Linked DNA regions of Homo sapiens. The protein of the gene in region 5 purifies or fractionates together with the protein of the main gene of each other region. This does not show direct contact. Each region holds a gene or a part of one and is shown on either strand. Other genes may lie near its edges.

Region 1 (3,500 bases), on a different chromosome or scaffold from region 5:
GTACGTGTTAAAGCCAGGTGATGGGTATATAGGGTTTACTGTACTATAGTCTGTCTTCTTAATGTGTGTTTAAAATTTTCCATAATAAAAAATCTTTTAAAAAGAATCACTATGTTTAGAAGTTTGGGGTTTTACCCAGAATAGAGATTCTAATTGTGGGGGGATCTGCCATGTAGTAAGTAACTGTTACCTTGGAGTTAGCCTTCTGCTCCCTCTAGGACAAATAGTTCTTGGTTTATTTAGCGAAAATTTTTTGCATTTTGGGATTCTTAATTCTTTTTGAGATGTTTGGAACAGTCCACTGCATTACTTACCCTGTTGTCAATTATGTCTGTGAAATTTGATATTCTGATTGTGAAAGGATATTTTTGACTAGTACCTTGGAATCACATTTGAATAACAAGTTTTATGATTAAATTTGGTATTAAAAATCCAAGCTTCAGTTATACCGTGTATTATATTATACAACAGTTTCATTCTTAGAAAGCTTCATATACACTTAATTGAACTGAATTAAATTTTAATTGTATTAGGAGAGTTCATTATTTAAGTCAAACTATAGATAATTCTTATATAAAATAGCCCTTTGGTTTATATGCAGATAGGTAAAATTTATGCCAATATACCTGAGCAACTGTTTTATGGTATTCTAACGTTTAACACATGATGGAAGGCAGATACAATTTTGAGGCGGGAAAGCTATTTGTTATATCACTGTCTCTTTATTTCAGAATGAGAGGAAATAGAAAATAGGTAGGAAGGAAGATAAAAGTCATTTAAATATAGTATTTCAAATATTTTTTTGCTGCTATTATATTGGATAACAAAAAACAAATACTGGCTTCATTTCTATTCTCTGGCAAGAGGATGAACAATCATATAAACTCAAACTACAGAAACTTAAAAGTTTTTGTATTTTTCAAGTTTATTCTCAAAATTGCTTAAAAATACAAACTTACAAGAAAAATTACTATGTCTCATTTCTATCATAAACAGAAGGTCTTATCACAGGAAATTTAAAAACCAAACAAGTCATGCCTTTTAGCTTTGATCTCTGTGGTTTGCACTGTGCACCCATTATACTTTCCAGCTATATCTTACCAGATTAGTTTGCCTCTGACAAATACAAAAGTTCCCAAAGATTGATTAGAGTAGAGGTGATAATTGAAGTGTAATACACAAGAAAATGCAAAGTAAAACAAGTATTTTAATGTGTAGGTTTCAGAGAATATAAACAACATTAACTGAAGACAATAAAATACCATATAGTCTACAAAGTAGAAGAGGAGAAAAAGGAGGAAAAAGGGAAGAAGAAACTAGATTCTGAAGCAAAGTTCAGCCAATTTAAGGTATAACTTAATAAAGTATGCTAAACCTAACAGACAGATATAAACCAGTAAGTCCACGTGGTAGCAGCCATAAAGTGAAAACAGGTTTACTGGTTCTAACTCAGGATGTTCTGGGCATCAACAAGGCAGTCTATCAAATTATAGCAATCCCACCTAAAAATGATGAAATTAATTGTATTTACATATCCCAAAAAGGAAAGCTAAGGTTCAGATGTTTCAAATACCCCCAAAAGATCAAGAAATACCTAAAATAAAATTTGACATTATCAATAATATGAGAAACACATGAAGGCATTTTCCATAAGAGTCCACTCACATGTTTCCAGGGGATCCCTTCCCGCTGGTATTCCTCTTGTTCTTGCTTCAGAACCAGCTGAATAAATAGCTGCTGCAGTTTCTCATTGCAGTAATTGATACAGAATTGTTCAAAACTACAAGAAAAGGAATAAATTAAGTTTCAACAAATAGAAAACAGGCAACAAGGTTTTAAGTATCTTTTCCAGTTTACCTGTTGTTGTCAAAGATTTCAAAGCCATAGATATCCAAGACACCAATAACAGTGTTTTTCCCATGGATTGTGGTGTCATAGTTCTTGACCTCAATAATATCATTGATGCGAGTAACGATCCAACAAAAAAGGCGCTCATATATTGCCTGCAAGGAAAATAGCATCATAAATGCTTGCCAATTTGGGAATGAGTCCTCTGTTTGGATTTGTGATCAGTTTTAAATTCCTGTCCACCTTCTCACTGTTTAGCATAGCCATTACTGGCCTCAGCAGAACAAATGAAAATGTAGACTGTCCATTTAAAAAAACCCAAACTACCTGATGTATGCAAAACTAAAGTAAATAGCTTGTATTTTTAAAAGATTATTACCGGTCATTATACCAATTCCAACGACACTCTCCAGGCATGTTTCCCTGCCCGGCTATATCAATAGTTTGCCTGATCCCTTGAATAAGCCAGTTCATTGCTTTATTATTAATTTCATCAACTATAAAGAGTTGAGAGCTAGTGAGTTAATATCTATGATCCACTAAAGCTATATGAATTCTAAAAAATATAAATATTGATTTCTAATGCTAAATGAAGATCTGAGCCAAAGATCAAGGGTTGAAATTCCCTGAGAATCGAACACACATCCAATGCACAAGAACACACACACTAAGCCACACATGGACAAAGGTGCCACACGCTAACACACATTCACATCCCGATACACATGTGCTCTGCAACGTCACATCGTTAGAAAACCTTCCTTAACGTCTCCTGCCAGCTACCCACTCTCTTCACCCATATCCATTACCTCCCCTTTACTCTTCAATCCACTCCAGTCTCCACTTACATCCTATTACTCCATTGAAATGGCTCATCAAAGACTCCCAGCACCTCTACATAGATACTTCTCGTACCTCATATGGACATCTTGCTCTGTCGCTCAGCATCACTCAACCTAGGTTTTCACTGCCTTCTTGGAACACTCTTCTCTCTGGATTTCGGATAATAGCCTTTCTGAATTTTACTCTTTGTTCACTGGATGTTCCTTTTTGGTGACCTTTGGTAGAGTCTCCTCTTCTACCTGACTTGTAAAAGTTGGAGTTCTTCCTGGTCCTCTTCTCTTCACTCTCTAGCACCTTCTAAATCATCTCACCCAGGATTAAATAATACAAATATAATATGACTCCCAAAAGTATTATCCAAATCCAGACTCAGAGAACAGTCTCTGAGCTCCTGACTCAAGAGCTTGACTGTCTACCTGACACTGACTCTTCAATGGCTCACAGCCATCTCAAACTCAAAGGACTCTTGATCTTTCCTCTTCCAACAACTGTTCCTATCCTACTTTTAGCCACAAATAAATAGCACCACTTAGAAATTCACTGATTTATTCAACAAATATTTGCTGAATACTTATTATATATAGTTTGTTAGAGATACAGGTCTAGGCAAACACAAACATAGTCTCAATGTCCAAGAAACTTAGGGAATAGAGTGAAGGAAAAAATTATTCTCTCTGTCTCTCTCACTTGCCCCCCACCTCGCAGATAAACATCCACACTAAAGGAGAGGTACATGGGGTCTTAGGGAAATTTAATCTATGCAGTGCTCAGGAAGGTTAGGGAAGGCCTCTCTGGGAAAGTGATACTTG
Region 2 (3,500 bases), on a different chromosome or scaffold from region 5:
TATTCAAAAACAACAATAGGCTGAGCACGGGGGCTCATGCCTGTAATCCCAACACTTTAAGAAGCTGAGGCAGGAGGAGCACTTGAGCCCAAGAGCTCAAGGCTGGAGTGAACTATTATCACTGCCACTGCACTCCAGCCAGGGCAACAAAGCAAGAACCTGTCTCAAAAAAAAAAAAAAAAAAAAAAAAAAAAGCAACAACAACAATAAGAAAAACAACAGCAACAAAACTGCCAAATGGCTGCGGTTACTTCATTTCCTGTAGCTATAAGAAAAAAAAAAACTAGGAAAGTTATAAAATATGCTGATTTAAAACAACATACAGTTGACCCTTGAACAATGGGGGTAAGGGTATACCATGTATAACTTTTACTCCCCAAACACTTAATTAGTAACAGCCTGATGCTAACCAGAAGTATTATCAGTAACAGTCGATTAACATATTTTATATATGTATTCTATACTGTATTCTTACCATAAAGTTAGAGAAAAGAAAATGTTATTAAGAAAATCATAAGGAAGAAAAATATATTTACTATTCATTAAGTGGAAGTGGATCATCATAAAGGTCTTCATCCTCAATGTCTTCAAATTGAGTAGGCTGAGGAGGAGAAAGAGGAGGGGGTTGGTCTTGCTGTCTCAGGGAAGGCAGAGGCAGAAGAGGTAGAGAAGGTGGAAGGGGAGGCAGGCACACTCAGTTTAACTTTACGGAAAAACATTGTAATTTCTTTTTTGCTTTTTCATTTCTTTAAAAATATTTCTATACAAAACCAATCCTTCTTTCATCATTTGCTTCAGTTTCAGTGCCTGTATCACACAATGGTCCATGTTGTACAGTAAGTCTAAAGCAGTCTTGAATAATCAGAACCCTTCTGCCAGATTGTCTACAGTCAATTTGTTTTCTGGCACTACTTCTTTGCCTTCTTCCTTATCGTCCAACGCTGGTTTGGAAGCACCGGCATCTTCATTAAATCATCTTCTGTTGATTCCTCTGGTTGATGTCTATTAGCTCTTGTCTTATCCACAGTCTCTTTCATAAATTCCTTGACTGGCTCTGCTACAAATCCTGTGAAATCATGCTCAACATCGGTACACAGTTTTCTCCAGCAGGAAGTTACTGTTTTGTGCTTGATGGCTTTCATGGCTTTTTCTATAACGATGGCATCTTCAGCGGTGTAATTCCTCCAGATTTTCATGATGTTCTATTGAGGTTAGAGTACCGTGTGTTATTAACCTTAAAGGTCCTCATGATCCCCTGATCTAGATGCTGAATTAGAGACTGTGTTCGGGGGCAAGTAGACCACTTCAATGTTTTCGGTGTTAAACTCATGGGGTTCTGGGTGGCCAGGGGCACTGTCCAACATCAAAAGAACTTTAAAGGGCTGTCCCATAATGGCAAGGTATTTCCTGATTTCAGGGACAAAGTATTGATGGAACCAATCCAGAAAAAGGATTCTCAGTGTTCAGGTCTTCTTGTTGAATGATCAAAAAACTGGCAGCTTCAAAAGACTTTTCCCTTCAGGTCTTGGGGGTTAGCAACTTTATACGTAAGGGCAGTCAGTCCTGATCATAAACCCAATTGCATTTGCACAGAACAGTAGTTAGCCTATCCCTTCCTGCCTTAATTCCCTGTGCTTTCTTCTTTTCCTAACACTCATGTCCTTTGTGGCCTGCCCCCCTCCCTGCCACCCCGAGAATAGGACACTTTTAACTGCATTAAAGACTTGTTCAGCGGTGCCCAGGAACTTGTCTGCTGTGTCTTAGTCAGCAGAAGCTGCTTCTCCTGTTAGCCTGCCATTTTTAGGCCAAGCCTCTTTCTAAAATTATCAAACCATTCTTTGCTGGCATTAACTCCTCTAGCTTCTCTTCCGTTTTGCTTTAAGTTGTCATATAATAACTTCACTTTTTCTTGAATATCATAGTCTACAAGTATGCCCTTTTTTTTTGTTTTTTTTTTTGAGACAGAGTCGCTCTGTCGCCCAGGCTGGAGTGCAGTGGTGTGATCTCAGCTCACTGCAAGCTCTGCCTCCCGGGTTCACACCATTCTCCTGCCTCAGCCTCCCGAGTGGCTGGGACTACAGGCGCCCGCCACCACGCCTGGCTAATTTTTTGTATTTTCAGTAGAGACGGGGTTTCAACGTGTTAGCCAGGATGGTCTCGATCTCCTGACCTCGTGATCTGCCCGCCTTGGCCTCCCAAAGTGCTGGGATTACAGGCGTGAGCCACCGCGCCCAGCCTACAAGTATGCCTTTCTTATAGCAATCCTGTACCCACATAAGAGCTGCATTTTCAACATGAGATAAAAAGGTATTCTGTAAAAAGTGCAAGGTTTCACACCTCCTGCTGTGGCTGCAGTGATGGCTTCACAAATTTTCTTTTATTTAAAATGGTCCTTATGCTGGATTAATTTATCTTGAAATAACGGGCAACCACAGCTGCAGACCTCATTCTACAGTACATATTAAGCAATTCAATTTTTTCTTGTAATGTCATGACTTTTCTGTTTCTCAGGATTGCTTCTGGCATCACTAGTGGCACTTTGTATAGGTCTGATGGTGTTATTCAAGGTTTATGGTATTGCACTAGACACGATGAAAACACGCAAGAACCACAAAAGACCTCTTTTGATTGCAATATGGGATTTACTGGAGACACAAACTGTTCACGGGGAGATGATCCACATCACATGGTGTTTTAAGCAGACACTTGGAAACATACGAGCTCACCAAAATAGCAACAGGAGGTGGCTACAAAATTATCACAGTAGTACAGTATGTATTAGTTATTTTTATGCAATTATGATTTAATACTGCATCTCTGTTACATTTCTCTTGATGCAAAAGGTGCCTTGTATGGGCTCTGTGTGTTTGAGTGTTAATAAATTTAAACTTTTAATAATAGATCTGTGTATGTTTTATGGTAGTAATAAAATAGACTAGTATCTACATATACTTTAGACATTCATAATATACTTAACTTTTTCTTAATTTCCCCCCCGCCCAATATTTCTAGGTTATGTGGCTTGTCTGTGAGTTTTTCAAGTTGTTGCAAGTCTCTAACATTTTTTCCAAAAGATTTGTTTTTAAAAACCTGTTTATAGAGCTGGGTGTGGTGGCACACACCTGTAATCCCAGCTTCTTGGGAGGCTGAGAAGGAAGAATCACTTGACCCCTGGAGTTTGAGACCAGCCTGGGCAACACTGCGAGTCCCCATCTCTTTAAACAAAAATATCCATGTGTAAGTGAACCTGCAGTTCAAGGGTCAATGACAGTTTAAAAGGGGGTAGACAAAGGTGGGATTAGGGAGGAAACAACTCTTTTGTTGCAAGGACGATACCCTTAGTAGAATCACAAGCTTAACAAAGAAAAATTATACCGCATGTGGTGGCTCACGCCTGTAAAGCCAGCACTTTGGGAGGCTGAGGTGGGTGGATCACATGAGGTCAGGGGTTCGAGACCAGCCTGGCCAATATGGCAAAACCCTGTCTCTACTAAAATTAC
Region 3 (3,500 bases), on a different chromosome or scaffold from region 5:
ACCATTATGCTTTTTTTTTTTTTTTTTTTTTTTGAGATGGAGTCTCATTCTGTCACCAAGGCTTGAGTGCAGTGGCTTGATCTCAGCTCACTGCAACCTCTGCCTCCTGGGTTCAAGCAATCCTCCTGTCTCAGCCTCCCGAGTAGCTGGCATTACAGGCACCCACCACCACATACAGCTAATTTTTGTATTTTTAATAGAGATGGGGTTTCGCCATGTTGGCCGGGCTGGTCTTGGACTCCCGACCTCAGGTGATCCACCCACCTCGGCCTCCCAAAGTGCTGGGATTACAGGTGTGAGCCACCGTGCCTGGCCTCCCCACCCTTTCAAAATTGCACCCCCTCCCCACAGCTGAGCACTCCTGTCCTCCCTCCCTCATTTCTCACTGAAGCACCTACCACAGTCTGCTAACCTTGTATTTCCCGGCTCTCTGTTTAGTCTCCCACCACCTCTCACACCGCCCCCCGAGCGAGAACACAGGCTCCCGGGTGGGAGCTGCCTTTTACGTTCACCATGGTGCCCCTGGCCTGGAATGGTCCTGGCACATGTACAGGTGCGCATTTGGAGAACAAATGAGTGAATGATGTAACTTCCTGTCTGGCCCAACATTCCAGTGAAGACAAGTAGAAAGGGTGCCAGAGCCCTGAGACCCGTGCCTCCTCCCAGAGCCACCCCTGGGAGTGGCCACGCTGGTATGCAGACAGAAGGGAATAGACTGCTCTCTTTTTCACAGCTCTCCTACAGGTGGCTGGGATGGGGTGGGGTCAGGAGTGTCTTTTACTATTTCCCTTCTCTCTTCTTCATGTAAAAAGCATCATAGCGTAACAGTTGAGAGCAGGGGCTTTGGAGCCAGACCGACATGAGTTCAAGTCCCAACTCTGCCCTAGGCGAGCTATGTGTCCCCATGCCAACAACCCCGCCCTCCAAGCCCGAGTTTCTCCATCTGCACATTAACAAGTGCGCCATCTTCCTCCAGGCCGATTGGGGTGATGTGGGGAGCTCGCCACGCCGCACGAGAAGTGCTTCACACAGGCCGACGTCCAACAAATGCCAGCTGTTATTAATATGATTAGCCCTAGATGTCCAGCCTAAGGACAACTGGAAGTGATTTGAGGAACACTTGGCCAAGTTCTTTGCCCTGGAGCCGGGAGGATGCTCACACTGCAAACACTTTGGAGGGGAATGCAACCTCCAGGATATTTTCCATGACAGCCCAGGGCTCCTGCGCCTAAGTGCCTCCCCTGGCAGGGAAGGTGGGTCTGCGCTGCCCCCTATGTGCCCGGCTCCTCTCCTTTCGAGGTGCTGGCTGGGAACCAAGCGCCAGGGCCCCAAACAGAGGGACCTTTATGCTGCCCCTCTCCCCGCGCCGGCTCCCAGGCCCTGCTTTCTTTTCATCCCGTGCTGCCGGGTTTCAATGGGCAGAAACTCTGCCCCCCTGCCCCACTGCGGTGACACAAACGTCCATTCTCCGCAGGGGCTCCTGAGACGCTCTGCTGGGGAGGGGGAGAGGCAAGGCTTGCTCACAAAGAGCTGATTGTGTGCGGGGCCCGGGAGTGACGGGGCCTGGGCAGCGGCGGACGGGAACCAGCCTGAGCCCCGTGGGCAGTGAGGGGAGAGAGAGGGGCAGGGCCAGGACCGGGCTGCAGGCGAGGGGTGACGGGGCCCGCAGGGGCAGGGAGGCAGGTGGAGGGGCCTCTCCCCACCTCTCAGGGGGTCCCTGTCTCCAAGCCTTCTCCAGGAAGAAGGGCATTCTGGACAAAACAGGGCCACAGCCTAGTCCTGTGGGGCTGAGGGGTCCTGTGTGCAAGGATGAGGGGCCAGCCCACCTCCCCCAGGAATAAATGCAGGGCAGCCCGCCCCAGCTTACCTTTGAAGGCTGTGAGCTTTTCTGGAAGGTTCTCTTCATCACTGTACTTCTGGTCACACAGAAACTCCTACAGAGGTGAGAGGACAGTGCTGAGCAAGGGACTGGGGACAGAAGTCACCCACACATGGGCCCACTGTCCGGGGGCCTTCCCTCCTATCGGGTAACCAGGTGCGACCAGACCCAGTTTGTCCCTTGTTCACCCCGGCTTCCTGTCGCCCCTTGGAGGCAGATCTGCACTGGCCACCCTGTGGGTAGGAAGTTTGCCCAGCAGCTTGGGGAGGCCCCAGAGGGTTCACTACGGGTGACTAAGCCCTCCAGCCAGCAGCTACATTACCAATGCTGGGACCCGTGCCCCTCCCCCAAGACACCCCAGCTTCAGATCCGAGAAGCTGTGAGCTCCAAAGACAAGCCCCTGGTTCCATCATTAACTTCTTAGGAATGTGATCCTGAGCTCATTCATTCCTCCGTGCACTTTTTTTTTTTTTTTTTTAAGAAGTCTTGCTCTTGTCCCCCAGGCTGGTGTGCAATGGCGCGATCTCAGCTCACTGCAACCTCCACCTCCTGGGTTCAAGCGATTCTCCTGCCTCAGCCTCCCCAGTAGCTGGGATTACAGGCGCCTGCCACCATGCCCAGCTAATTTTTGTATTTTTAGTAGAGACGGGGTTTCACCATGTTGGCCAGGCTGGTCTCGAACTCCTGACCTCAGTTGATCCCCCCGCTCCCACCCCTCCGCCTCAGACTCCCAAAGTGCTGGGATTACAGGTGTGAGCCACCGCGCCCGGCCCTCCCCACACTTCTATTGCCTTATCTACCAAATGAGAATCATGATCTGCTTCTTGAGTTTGTATAGAAATCCAGTGAGGCCAGGTGCGGCGGTTCACGCCTGTAATCCCAGCATTTTGGGAGGCCAAGGTGGGCCGATCACCTGAGGTCAGGGGCTCGAGACCAGCCTGGCCAACATAGTGAAACCCCGTCTCTATAAAAATACAAAAATTAGTTGGGCATAGAGGTGGGCACCTGTGATCCCAGCTACTTGGGAGGCTGAGGCAGGAGAATAGCTTAAACCTGGGAGGTGGAGGTTGCAGTGAGCTGAGATCATGCCACTGTACTCCAGCCTGGGAGACAGAGAGAGACTCCATCTTAAAAAAAAAAAAAAAAGAAAAGAAAAAAGAAATCCAGTGAGAGTGTGAATTCGTCGTCTCTGCTCTAACGGGAAAATGACTGTACACTTACCCTCTCACCTGTTTCCTCACCTGTAAAATGGGGGTTTTAATCTCTGGCCTGCCTTCCCTTCAGATGCTTGGAGAGACTCAAATGAGTCCTTTCAGGACCAGATGGGCAGGGTGGGGAGGATTGGACACTAACAATGGCCTCCAGGGTGAAGCCCTTACCTATGTGATCTCTTCACATCTCCTAGGAGTCCCAAGAGGGAGCTATTGTTATTATTATTTTGAAACAGGGTCTTGCTCTGTCATCCAGGCTGGAATGCAGTGATGCAATCTCAGCTCACTGTAACCTCCGCCTCCCGATCTCAAGTGATCCTCCCACCTCAGCCTCCTGAGTAGCTGGGACTACAGATGGGCGCCACACCACGGCTGGCTTATTTTTGTATTTTTTGTAGAGACAGGGTTTC
Region 4 (3,500 bases), on a different chromosome or scaffold from region 5:
GAGGTTGCAGTGAGCCGAGATTGTGTCACTGCACTCCAGCCTGGGTAAAAGAGTGAGAGTGCATCTCAAAAAAAAAAAAAAAAAAAAAAAAAAGAGGAAATCAACCTAAGTTCTCATTTCACTTGGGTAAATACCTAGGAGCGGGAATGTTGGGTCATATGACAAGTATATATTTACCTTCATAAAAAACTGCCAAACGTTTCTCCAAAGTAGCTACACTATTTGCCCTTCCAACAGCAAAGGATGAAAGTTTCCATTGCTCCCATTCTTACCAGCATTTTGTATTGCCGTTTTTTCCTTAGTTTCTCTTAATATCTTAATTTTCACAATAGACATATAGTACTATCTCATTATGGGTTTAATTTGCAATTCCATAATTACTAATGATGTTTAATGCCTTTATTTTTTTTTTTTTTTTTTGAGACAGAGTCTCACTCTGTCGCCCAGGCTGGAATGCAGTGGCACAATCTTGTCTCACTGCAACCTCCACCTCCTGGGTTCAAGTGATTCTCGTGTCTCAGCCTCCTAGGTAGCTGGGATTACAGGCACGTGCCACCACACCTGACCAATTTTGTATTTTTAGTAGAGACGGTTTCGCTATGTTGGCCGGGCTAGTCTTGAACTCCTGACCTCAGATGGTCCACCCACCTCAGCTTCCCAAAGTGCTGGGATTACAGGCATGACCCACCATGCCTGGCCTATGTTTAACACCTTTTGGGGTGTTTATCTGCTGTTCATACACCTTCCTGCATAGTGTCTACTCAAATCTTTTGCTCTTTTTAATTAGGTTGTTTACTTTTTTTAATAGAGATGGGGTCTTGCTATGTTGCCCAAGCTGGTCTCAAACTCCTGGATTTTCAAGCAATCCTCCAGTCTTGGCCTCCCAAAGTGCTGGGATTACAGACGTGAGCCACCATGCCCAGCTTTGAGTTCCTTATACAGTCTATTTTTTGTCAGATATGTGATGGGGAATATTTTCTCCCAGTCTGTGAAGTCTTTTTATTCTCTCAACAGTGTGTTTGGAAGAGCAGAATTTCTTAATTTTGATGAAGTCTAATTTATCAGTTTGTTCATTTATGAATCATGTTCTTGGCATCATGTCCAAGAAATCTCTGCCTGACCCATGGTCAAAAATATTTTTGTCCTATGTTTTCTTTCAAATATTTTATAGCTGTACATTTTACTTCACAATCTATGAACATTTTTTAAAATAGAAACGGGTCTCACTCTTGCCAAGGCTAGTCTCAAACTCCTGGGCTCAAGCAATCCTCCTGCCTCAACCTCCCAAAATGCTGGGATTACAAACGTGTGCGACCAGACCCGGCCTACGAACCATTTTGAACTAATTTTTGCATACAGTGTCAAGTACAGATTGAGGCTCTAATAAAAAGATTTCATTTTGATGTTTGAGTGCAGATTGCCTTCAGGTCCCACACCTCTCTCCCTTTTGTCCCACATCTGGGTAAGTCTGTAAGAAAGCCCAGGTACTCCCTCCCTTGGTATTGGTGTAAAGTTGAAACCATATAAATACCACACTTGGGGACCAGTATTCCCTCCCTTGGTACTGGTGTGAAGTTGAAACCATGTAAATACCACACATGGGGACCATCAAACAAGTTCCACCTTCTGGTCAATAAAAACCAAAGCCACCCACCCTGTTTCACTCTTGCTTCATCCTGGACTAAACCTAAGTCCTTGACCTTGAGGAGTCCTTTTGCTGTTTACTGTGTGATTAAACTTTATTTCATATCCACTGGTGGATTCATGTCACTTGTCCCAATATTCACATAAATTCCTGGGCAAGGGACTGCCCAGTGTCCAACAGTGGATACTTGGTGCCCAAATAAAACAAAGATTGTTTTTTCTTTGCATATGAATATTCAACTGTTCCAGACTATCCTCTGTTGAACTGCCCTTAAACTTTTTCAAAATGAATTGACAATTTTTGTGTGACTAAATTCTCTATTTTGTTCAATTGATCTGTATGTCTATCTTTTCTCCAATACCACAGTCTTGGTTATTGCAGCTTTAAACTAAGTTGAAATCAGGTAGTATGAATCTTCCAACTTTGTTATTCTTTTTCAAAATTGTTTTAGCTTTTCTAGTTCCTTTGGTTTTCCATATTAATTTTAGAATCGGCTCATTAATTTCTATAAGAAATCCTCTGAGATTTGGACTAGAAATGTGCTGAATCTATAAATCAGTTTGAGAAGAGTAGGTATCTTAATACTGAGTCTTCTAATCCATGAACATGATATAATCAGTGTTTCATAATTTTCAACATACAAATATTACACACCATTTGAAAAGTTAATACTTAAGTATTTCATGGTTTTTAGTGCTAATGAGATGGGAATTTTTCACTTTAGTTTCTAATTGTTCATTATTAGTATATAGAAATACAATTTACTGTTGTATATTGACCTTCTAAGCTACAACTCTGCTGAATTAACCTATTCACTAGAGCTTTTTTGAAGAGTCACAGACATGTTGTCTGTGAATAGAAACTGCTCTTTGAAGCACACTGTTTAAAGAATGAAGACAAGCCAACAACTGGGAAAAAATATTTCCCTATCACATCTAGCTATTGCACTCCTAGGCATTAATATAAGAGAAAAGAAAGCATATCTCTCTCCAACAACTTGTACATGAATGCTCATAGCAGCTTTATTCATAATAGTCAAAAAGTGAAAACAATCCAAATGTCCATCAAAGGGTAAATGGGTTAAAAAAAATCATGGTATATTCATAAAATAAAATACTATTCAACAATAAAAAACTATGAACACATAACAACATGGATGAATCTCAAATTATGCTGAGTGTAAGGAGATTCCCCGTGCTAAAAAAAAAAAAAAAAAGCGTATATACAATTCCATTTTTATAAAATTCTAGAAAATAAAAACTAATCTTAAGCAACAGAAAGGAAACAATGGTTTCCTAGGGATACAGAGAGGGTAGTAAGGAGCAAAAGAAGGGATTACAAAAAGTCATAAGGATACTGCCGATGCCCCGGCTAGAGTGCAGTAGCGTGATCTTGGCTCACCGCAGCCTTAATCTCCAGGCTTTGGGTGAGTCTCCCACCTCAGTCTCCCAAGTAGCGGGGACTGCAGGCACACAACACCACACCTGGCTTTTTAATTTTTTTGTAGAGACAGGGTTTTACCATGTTGCGCAGGCTGGTCTTGAACTTCTGGGCTCAAGCAGTCCTCCTGCCTCGGCCCCCCAGAGTGTTGGGATTACAGGTGTGAGCCACTGCGCCTGGCCAAGTATACTCTTTTTTGAGACAGAGACTCATTTCGGTCACCAGGCTGGAGTACAGTAGCACAATCACAGTTCATTGAAGACTCAACCTCCCCAGCTCAAGCAATCCTCCTGCCTCGGCCTCCCAAGTAGCTAGGATTACAGGCAGGCACCATCACACCCAGCTAATGTTATTTTATTTTGTGTAGAGATGAAGTCTTTCTATGTCGCCCAGGCTGGTCTGGAACTCCTGGGCT
Region 5 (3,182 bases):
ATTAACTCAAGATGGATTAAAGACTTAAATGTAAAACCCAAAACCGTAAAAACCCTAGAAGAAAACCTAGGTAATACCATTCAGGACACAGGCATGGGCAAAACTTCATGACTTATTGACAACTGAAGCTCAACCTATATATAGTTCTTTACAAATTAAAAATGGATAATATTAACTATACGAAGCCCACTAGCATTTACATAAAGTTACTTCAACAAGTTTCATAGGTTTCATGCTACATAATTTAGTGAATATGGCAAACACAGTCAAATTTATTTAGCACCATTTCAGCTAAAAGTATCAGCTTTTAACACAGCTACACGCATCCATCACCACCACCACCACCACACAATCAAACACCAGTATTTCAAACCCAAAAAATCAGTAGCTAATTTACAAAATAAATACTGCTTTTAAAAGCAGTAGTAGGAAAGTTAGGTTAAAAAGCTGTTGCTTGGAATTTTTCAGCTTAGATCCAGGAAAAATTAGCAAATTGAAAATTTTAAGAAAGACCACCATATTTTATTAAAGTTGGATGTGACTGCCCTTTGCAATTAATGTTTCATGCACCAGAAAAGCATAATTTCTGGTTGTCAAAACAATAACTTCCTTGCTAGTTCAAACTATAGTTATACAGCTCTAAAGAAACATTAACAATTTGTATAAATGGGTTGAAAATGTGATTATTTTCTATTCAAATTAATAATGCAAACACGAATACAATGTTACTTCAAACAATTAAGAAATTTTATCCAGTCGTTAGCTAAGTAATGAGGTCGAGTAATCCCCAGTAACTTCCTGTGATACCAAAGGGAATGTATGTTATCTCTAATGAAGCACACCTGGGTCTGTCATGAACTAACAATGTGAAGGTGAGCCCTTTGGCTTCTGGGGGATTTTATTTCCTCTGCTGTAGAATTGAAGGACTTTGTTTAAGGTGTCTTACAAAGACTTCTTGCTTTGCAAAAACGTGTTGGGTGGAGTAAGAAGTAAATTTTTAAAGGCATTTGGACTTTTTTTCTATCTGTAGAACAGCATAATTCAGAACTATTCCACACTGTTGTTCTGGAAAAATTTTCCTCATGCAATGTAATTGTAATGACTGACATTAAAAAGTCTGAAAATGAAACATCAAACAATAAAAATGTGGTTTCAAATCTTTAAAGTGCTTGCAATATTTGGGTTAAAAATGATGCACCACTACCAGTTAGAATATCCCATCTTTGAATTTTAAGAGCTAAGAGTCTGAGAAGGGGAAAAATGACAAAGAGATTGCATTATTCACGCTATTCTTCCATACATGCATTCAGTGCACACCAATTGAAAAGTAAACACCTTGAAATACTACTAAGAAAGCAAAGAAAGATTATTCCTTCCATCAAACACCATACAAAAACCACATTATCTACACACACACACACACACATACACACATGTTGTCTCGAATGAATCAAACAAAATAAAAAAGACCATTATGACTAAAAACGCTGTATGAACCAGCATGTTTTCTGTGTTCCAATGACGCACGTACATTCTGCCTTATTCTAATTGGTTTTTCTTTTCTCTTTCCATCACAAGGACCACTTTCTGAGTTTCTAGTTCAATGTTGTTCCAGGTATTTTACAAATCCTACTTGCTTCAAAGTTACAAGGAACATCATTCCAGGCCCATTTATCTTGGTTATAAACAAGAACAACACAGTTTTCTCCCTGAGAGTTGTCGGGTTCATTCTTATGCCAGAATCTGAAAGAACAACAACATAGATAGAGATTTATAGGTATATATAGACAATGTAGATTATAGGTGTAGATTAGATATAGATATATTAGGAGACAATTCAGAGAAATGTCCCTAGTGAACAGTTTAGAACTGCACTAATACTATACTCACTAGACACATGTAGCTACTGAGCACTTGAAATGTGGCTTCTCTGAATTGAAATGTGCTTTAAGTCTTAAGTGCTGTATTTTGAAGACTTAGTGCCAATGAAGAATGTCAAAGACCTCAGTAATAATTTTATAATGATCACATGTTGAAATGATAAGATTTGGATATATTGGGTTAAATACATTATTAATACGTTATTAAAATACATTTCACTTGCTTCTTTTTACTTTCTTAATATAACTAACAAAAAATTTTAAATTGCACATGTGGCTTTGCATTATATTTTTACTAAACGATACTGGCTTCAAGAAAGAAAATGACAAGATTTTGATTCTCTTTCAAAGAAAATTTTTATCGCTTATATTGTTTATTTAAATGTCAAGCCTAAAACAAATTTTATATCACTTCTATGCTATTCATTCTTTCATTATTGACATTGTGCAAATAAGAATACTGAAAATTGCATGCAAATTATAGGACCATTCTGGAACTGGGACATAGCATATGGAGATTACTCAACCTACAGTGGTCTCTCTTAACATTTTTATATCAATGTACTCCACTTCAAAATGAATGTTTCTTGCTACCATCTTCTAACCTTTGCTTATAAATCCCCTTAGCCCACTCAATATACTTACACTCTGCGTGGGTTAAATGGCGTCTGGTCCACCCAACGCCACTGACCTTTGGCATTCTCATCTCTAAGTCCAAGGAAATAGGAAAGCCGTCTATCCAGAAACTGAATAATAAAGTTCTGCATAAAAATGTAAATTTTAATATAGTTGCATGAATCAGGTGATGGCTATGATGTTGGAAAAAGAGGAAATATGTCAACTAGATTACTGGTTAAGCACAAAAGCTCTGGCATCAGATAGATCTGTTTTCAAATCCTGCCTGTAATGTTAGTAAGTGCTTCAATCTTACCAAACCCCCAGTGCTCTTGTCTTCAAAAGGGACAACTCCACTACTTTATAGAGTTACTAGGAAGATTAAGTGAGGTCAGACTTGCAACCCTTTTAGCACAATGCTTAATAAGATTAGATTTTTTAGGAGGTTTTGTTTTTAATATCTTCTTTAATTGCGTGCATATTTCATTAAATTCCATTTTATTCAGAATTACCGAACCTATACATTGTAAACCTATGGAGACAAAATCCTTGAGGAAACTATTAACCAAGAAAAAGTTAGAATCTGAGTCATGGTACATAAATGGAAACATATTACATGAGGAAATAAATTTTAGCCTTTAAAGAATTTACCCTAAGATTTCTTTACTTATCATTAGATCCATACAT
Region 6 (3,500 bases), on a different chromosome or scaffold from region 5:
CTAAATAAAAGCCTGATTATTTCACATCAATGAAGTTAAGATTCTGCCTCCAATGGGCTCATGTGAGTTTGCACAAAGCCATTCTGAATCAAGACAATTCTCTACACACAATGCAAGTGCAGAGATGGCAACTGATTCAGACTTCACTCCAGTGAGCATGTGTGATCACGCAAACTCAAGTTCAACCAGAGCTTATACTTCTCTCTTCGGTCAACTAAAGGGGATCCTATGTCAATTACATGACCTTGCCTGCAAGGGGAGTGGTGGCCTACTGTGTCAGAAAGCATACAGAATACAAAGCCTTCTGACTCTCTGGGCCCAAAGTCACCCACTTATTATACAATCAATGAAACTGAAAATTACAGAAGATTTTAGCAACCAATCTCTTAGAACTTCTAGATACTAACCCTCTGGCAGAACTGAAAGTATTAATTCTTAACAGTCTCCAACACTCCAGTTTTTTTTTTTATTTTTTTAAGATGGCATCTTGCTCTGTTGCCCAGGCTTGAGTACAGTGGCACGATCTCGGCTCACTGCAAGCTCTGCCTCCCAGGTTCACGCCATTTTCCTGCCTCAGCCTTCCAAGTAGCTGGGACTACAGGCGACCGCCACCACGCCCGGCTAATTTTTTGTATTTTTAGTAGAGACGGGGTTTCATCATGTTAGCCAGGATGGTCTCGCTCTCCTGACCTTGTGATCCACCCGCCTCGGCCTCCCAAAGTGCTGGGATTACAGGCGTGAGCGACTGCACCCAGCCAACACTCCAGTTTTTATTATACAGTAATTCTCTGAAATGCAGACCCATTAAAAGAAGACAAAAACCCTCCTTGTCACAGGATGGTAACCAGACACTTCACAACTGAGCACTTTTACGACACCCAATAAAGACTAACATGATAAACCAAACACTTAAGTGACATCAGATATGATTTTCAAGAGAGACTCTCCAATAAATGGAATAATCTAGCTACAAGTTATCTTAAGTCAAGTCACCTCCACCATCTGCCCTGGATCCATGCTACCTGTTAACTACTCTCCTGTCATTCCTAAGGGAGGAAAGTGGGGAGGTCAGGATCTGTGGGTATGTGCTGGTTCTAGAACAGGATTTAGCGAGTCAGTTCCTTCATCTGTACTATCCAGACCCCCTTTGGAAGTCCAGGGATGAAAGAGGTAGGCTTCACAGGGTCACCAAGGACTGGGCCTTTGTGTGCGCTTCAGGCCTGCTGGGTCTCAGCAGCCATTTGGAAGTGTTAACTGCTATGGCTAAAGAGTGGCAAGCCTGATGGAGAGGCACTGATGATTCTCCTCAGGAAGGTCACCTAAAAGGAGTCTCCTCCTCATGTTTCTCTTGATTAGTTTTATAGTTTTTAAGCAAAACTGACTCCATAAAGCCCACTTCACTCTCACCTCTGGCTGGATGCACCTCCATCTCCGTGCAGAGGGCATGAGATGTGGAGTTAAGATGCTTCTGGGTCAAATTCTGTCCTTGCAACTTGAGCAAGGTTCAGACCTTTAAGGAACCTCAGCTTCCTCCTCTGGGCTGTTGTGACAACTGAGCAAGACTGTATACGGGAAGAGTTTAGAAAGGGCTCAGGATATATAATATATACAATTGTGCTGTAATTAGTTTTTATCTATCCAACCTTCCTGTTAAACTAAGTGCACCAATATCTGCCTCATTACTGTCTTCCAGGTGTCTGATATACTGAAGGTGCTGTAAAAACGCAGCTCATCAAGGCAGGCCTGGATCTGGGAAGTCACAACTTCCATAAAGTCAAGGTTGGTGGACTAGGTCTATATGCAGATCCTAAAAACCCACTGGTAGACTTTTCAAATATTCTTCATGAAGATCAAACTACAAGCTTCTGAAAGGCCTTCTCTTTTACCGCTAAACAATTCTCACTGCAAAGGTTTTGACATTTAACCGAAGGACATTCAACTGCCATAAAGTTGGTGCTTTTTCCAAAACAACAATAAAATCCTGCTATTTGTAGTTAACAAGCCAGATTTGTTTTTTAGTAACTATTACGCAAATTTTTTTTAGTATTTGTAGTTAATAAACCAGATTTGTTTAGTAACTATTACACAAATGAATTATATTTTAGTATATATATAGGCGCATTGTGGAAAATAGGGGAAAAGCAGGTTGGGGGTGGGAGAGCACCATAATCCCATCACCAATTTGTCTGTATTTTCTTCTAGGCTTTTCTTATGGTTTAAAAATAATTTTTAAGCTAGCTGTAATTGTAATAACACAATGTAACTGTGCATACTGCTTTTCCCCATTTTAAACTGTAACAGACTTCATGTATTACTGATTTTTTAAAGTCTCTAATAAAAAAGAAAATGGAATTGAGATTTGGAAGAATTAACTTGTTTAACAAATTAATATTGCAAACCATTTCACATTTAAAAGACAAAATGATGATTGTCTAATTCTCTTACTTTTTAAGTACTATTTGGCAGGACTATTTAAATTACTGAGCTTTTTTTAGATTTGGGGGAAATATTAAAATTTTGTATAGCTGTTTTCCTGTTACAAAAATAATGCATGCTCATTATACAACATTTAGAGAAAATTTCAATAATTTAATGTTAACATTTATTGAATGTGGACTATGCACCAGGCACTATTCCAAATGCTATATACATAGATTAGCTCATTTATTCCTCACAACACTTATTGAAGCATAGATTAAGTAACTTGCTCACAGTCTACTCACCTAGAAGTATGAGCCAGAAATCATTATGTTATGTTCTAGGAGTGAAACGAATCAATAATTTACTCAATCAAATGCTTCAGTTGTTTCAGAGCATAATGTCATAGGCAAGAAACAATTAATAATCACACTGTACCCTTTATAGTTATTTAAAATTATTATAAACCACATCTCTGTGTCCCAGTGGAGCAATTAGTAAAATGAGAAATCATCTGTGGCATGAGCTAAGATCCTGGTTCAGCCCAATTCTGTGCACCTGACGTGCATTAGGACAAAAACAAGAAGCTTTAAAGGGTTTGTTTTAAAGATGGAGGCTTTTTTTTTTTTTTTTTTTGAGACAGAGTTTTTGCTCTTGTTGCCCAGGCTGGAGTGCAATGGCACGATCTCGATTCACCGCAACCTCCGCCTCCTGGGTTCAAGTGATTCTCCTGCCTCAGCATCCCGAGTAGCTGGGACTTCAGGCATGCGCCATCACGCCTGGTTTATTTTGTATTTTTAGTAGAGATGGGGTTTCTCCATGTGGGTCAGGCTGGTCTTGAACTCCCGACCTCAGGTGATCCGCCCACCTTGGCCTCCCAAAGTGCTGGGATTATAGGTGTGAGCCACAGCGCCTGGCAAGATGAAGGCATTTAAAAAATTTTTTAGATTTTAGGAAATGAGTCAACAATGTGATGAGTAGATTTCCTGAATTAACTGAACACCCAATCTCATGAAAGTTTACAAATAAAACAACGACTCACAATCAGCCTAACACTTCTTATGGCTTATCTGTTGGCCTTG
Region 7 (2,767 bases), on a different chromosome or scaffold from region 5:
TATACATGGATGTATCAACAGTGAGGTAGTCATAACTTTCTCCTGACCCATACTGTTGCTTCTGAAAGATTGGAGGTTATGGCAGACATTTTGGGAACATGTAACCTTGCACCATTGCCGTGCTTTGTTGCTTGGACCCATGAATCTTCTGTGGCACAGTTCAGTGGCAAGCTCCAAAGGTGCTCCAAACTCAGTGAGCTGAGTTTCAGAGTAGGACACATTAGAAATGAAAACTATTAATACAAGATGATGAATCAAGTGAGTTAAAATTCAGGGAGTAAAAAACAAGTGTGTTTAAGAACCTGGAAATGAGATGGAGGAACAATTTATTAATTGAGTTTGAAATTTTTGCAGGCTTTATTTCAGGCTGGAGAACTTAAATGGGGGACAGATGAAGAAAAGTTTATCACCATCTTTGGAACACGAAGTGTGTCTCATTTGAGAAAGGGTGAGTGAAAAAAATCTGTATGGGGCAGATACATTGGTAAATTTGGAAAGTGCATGAGCCAGTGTGACAGAATACCTGCTACATAGCAGGGACTTAGAGAATGAATCAGTTTTTGTATTTCTTCCTTTTGGTGACCTGGAGAAATCTCAACATTGTTTTTGCTGCTGTTGTAGCTTTTACAAACTAGAGATCCTGAGTCCACCCTTCACTATTGGAGGATGGCAAGGGAGGTCAGTTCTCTAGATTGTTCCTCTCATAGTCACACATCACTGAATAGTGGCTCACTACACGTATTTCCTCCTAGAGGTTGGTACCCAGGACCTTATCTCTGGATAGTCATCAGCACTTGTGGTATCAGTTGGGAATGAATTTAGTGCAAGTGACAGAGAACCCTAATAGTGGCTTTAAAAATTGGGCTTTTTTTCCAGAGGTGGGATTCCATGGTTGATTTGGCAGGACCTGAGATCTTTCTGGTTTTTCTTTTTGCTCCATTATCCCTAGTGTTTTGGTTTTCTTTCTTCATTATCATAAGATGTCTGCTCTAGCTCCAAACTTAACCATTTCACAGCAGGAAGGAAAGAAAAGGGTAAACTAGTCCTATCTGTGTATCACTTTTTGTAAGTGAGGAGATTTCTCAGCATCCCCTCCAGTAGATTTACCTTTAGGTCTCATTGGCTATAACTCGTAAGGGGGCTGGCAATCAGTGAACAAAGTATATTTACAATCCATTGCTTAGGGCTTGGCACATTGAGGCTTTGAGCACAAGGTTCTGTCAGCAAGGAAGAAGGGGAGATTTGTGTTCAGTAAGACACTACCTAATCAAAGTAAATACCATCTTTCTGGAAAGAGTGATCCCTACATGATTAGGGAATCATTTTTATTTTTTCTAGTGTTTGACAAGTACATGACTATATCAGGATTTCAAATTGAGGAAACCATTGACCGCGAGACTTCTGGCAATTTAGAGCAACTACTCCTTGCTGTTGGTAGGTGATTTACAATGTATTGATATTTTTGGTGGTAAGAGCTAAAGCATTTTATTCAATTGAGGCTGCATCTGAAAATAACCACCTAGGTGTGAAGGAAGAGCTTGATATGATATTTAGGGGAAGCAAACTCCCAAATTTCCAATTCAGAAATTTATTTTGATGTTGGAAATACAGGATTGTCTGGTTAGTTCATCTAAATCCTATGGAAATACTAAGATAATTGTTTAAAAATCATTTTGAAGCTGCATTAAAAATATTATTTATTGATAAACCTGAAATGTCGTGGACATTATCTCAGAGGCTTGTAAACATTATTTCTGATACCTGTGGAATTTTAGAATTTTTTTGAATACTGTTCTCTCAGCTTTGAGGCAGACTAAGAAATTGTCATCTGGTTTAGAAAAGAAGAATATCTTTGATGTAATAGAAGATGTGATGATGGTTGTTTTCAAATTAAATAATTTAGTTTTATTTTAATTAAATATTCAGAATAATCTGGAAAAATTGGAGAACTGAATCTGTGCAGTTGATTGCAGTATTATGTACTCCAAAGCTAGGGAGAATCTAGTTTGTGAGTCTCCTGTGGTCCTTTTGTTCATATGGGTCTGCAGTGAGCCTCTGTCTGCTGTTTGTTCCAAGTATTTGGCCTTGAGCTCACACTTTTGTGCTCTCTGTCTTCAGGAGACTAAGCTAAAGATCTGCATGAACCAACTCTAAAAGTAGCCTTTCACTTGAGTACACAGTTAATGTACTTTTACCAGAAAACTTTTAGACAGGTCCTTCATAATTAGAATACGCATACAAATTAAGACATTTTCAGTTACTGGTGGCTGTTTTTCTTAAGACTTAGAAAAGGGAGAATTAAGAAATCTCCACATGCAAGGATTATTTTTGTATATTAAGGAATTTTCATGATAGATTTTCTGAAGCTAAGCAGACTGAGGTCTGAGCAGCCCCAACCTACATTCAACATGTACATGTTCAGAGAAGAGATCCTTTCTGATATTGATTTATCTGTTTTTGTACTGAAATGGATAAATCTCATGCTGCTCTGTGTGAATCATTGATATTAAAGAATATGTAGAGAGTATAGGAAGATCACCCAAGAGTTTAAAAAAATTAGGTAGTAATCTTGTATTATTTGCTTTAATGTCTTGGAATGAAAACTTCCAAGGGATTTGTGTAATTTATTGGTGATGAAGAATGTTGTGGTATTATGATAACAATCCAGGCTGCCCAAACTGCAGTATCCAAAAAGTCTTCACAGAACCAAGGCGCATAGAAAAACCTGTGCCCTTATTCTCCATGCCTTTCTATGCAGACCTCAGAA

What was found.
Region 1: the proteins of CLEC4D (region 5) and MYO1D purify together in Homo sapiens (affinity purification with mass spectrometry, with the first as the bait; one large-scale study listed by BioGRID). This does not show direct contact.
Region 2: the proteins of CLEC4D (region 5) and RAB10 purify together in Homo sapiens (affinity purification with mass spectrometry, with the first as the bait; one large-scale study listed by BioGRID). This does not show direct contact.
Region 3: the proteins of CLEC4D (region 5) and AIF1L purify together in Homo sapiens (affinity purification with mass spectrometry, with the first as the bait; one large-scale study listed by BioGRID). This does not show direct contact.
Region 4: the proteins of CLEC4D (region 5) and P4HA1 purify together in Homo sapiens (affinity purification with mass spectrometry, with the first as the bait; one large-scale study listed by BioGRID). This does not show direct contact.
Region 6: the proteins of CLEC4D (region 5) and GNG12 purify together in Homo sapiens (affinity purification with mass spectrometry, with the first as the bait; one large-scale study listed by BioGRID). This does not show direct contact.
Region 7: the proteins of CLEC4D (region 5) and ANXA5 purify together in Homo sapiens (affinity purification with mass spectrometry, with the first as the bait; one large-scale study listed by BioGRID). This does not show direct contact.

Annotation. Positions count from the first base shown.
Region 1 is NC_000017.11:32,758,625-32,762,124, forward strand, and holds part of MYO1D (unconventional myosin-Id), read right to left. Parts: intron 2,004-3,500; coding exon 1,858-2,003; intron 1,781-1,857; coding exon 1,666-1,780; intron 1,503-1,665; coding exon of another isoform or gene 1,488-1,502; exon of another isoform or gene 1,188-1,487; intron 1-1,187. UniProt on the Homo sapiens protein: Unconventional myosin that functions as actin-based motor protein with ATPase activity. Plays a role in endosomal protein trafficking, and especially in the transfer of cargo proteins from early to recycling endosomes.
Region 2 is NC_000002.12:26,121,084-26,124,583, reverse strand, and holds part of RAB10 (ras-related protein Rab-10), read right to left. Parts: intron 1-3,500. UniProt on the Homo sapiens protein: The small GTPases Rab are key regulators of intracellular membrane trafficking, from the formation of transport vesicles to their fusion with membranes.
Region 3 is NC_000009.12:131,110,031-131,113,530, reverse strand, and holds part of AIF1L (allograft inflammatory factor 1-like), read right to left. Parts: intron 1,935-3,500; coding exon 1,868-1,934; intron 1-1,867. UniProt on the Homo sapiens protein: Actin-binding protein that promotes actin bundling. May neither bind calcium nor depend on calcium for function.
Region 4 is NC_000010.11:73,086,867-73,090,366, forward strand, and holds part of P4HA1 (prolyl 4-hydroxylase subunit alpha-1 isoform 2 precursor), read right to left. Parts: intron 1-3,500. UniProt on the Homo sapiens protein: Catalyzes the post-translational formation of 4-hydroxyproline in -Xaa-Pro-Gly- sequences in collagens and other proteins.
Region 5 is NC_000012.12:8,519,685-8,522,866, reverse strand, and holds the end of CLEC4D (C-type lectin domain family 4 member D), read right to left. Parts: intron 2,642-3,182; coding exon 2,526-2,641; intron 1,744-2,525; coding exon 1,596-1,743; 3' UTR 501-1,595; downstream 1-500.
Region 6 is NC_000001.11:67,826,968-67,830,467, forward strand, and holds part of GNG12 (guanine nucleotide-binding protein G(I)/G(S)/G(O) subunit gamma-12), read right to left. Parts: intron 1-3,500. UniProt on the Homo sapiens protein: Guanine nucleotide-binding proteins (G proteins) are involved as a modulator or transducer in various transmembrane signaling systems.
Region 7 is NC_000004.12:121,670,214-121,672,980, reverse strand, and holds part of ANXA5 (annexin A5), read left to right. Parts: intron 1-354; coding exon 355-448; intron 449-1,338; coding exon 1,339-1,434; intron 1,435-2,767. UniProt on the Homo sapiens protein: This protein is an anticoagulant protein that acts as an indirect inhibitor of the thromboplastin-specific complex, which is involved in the blood coagulation cascade.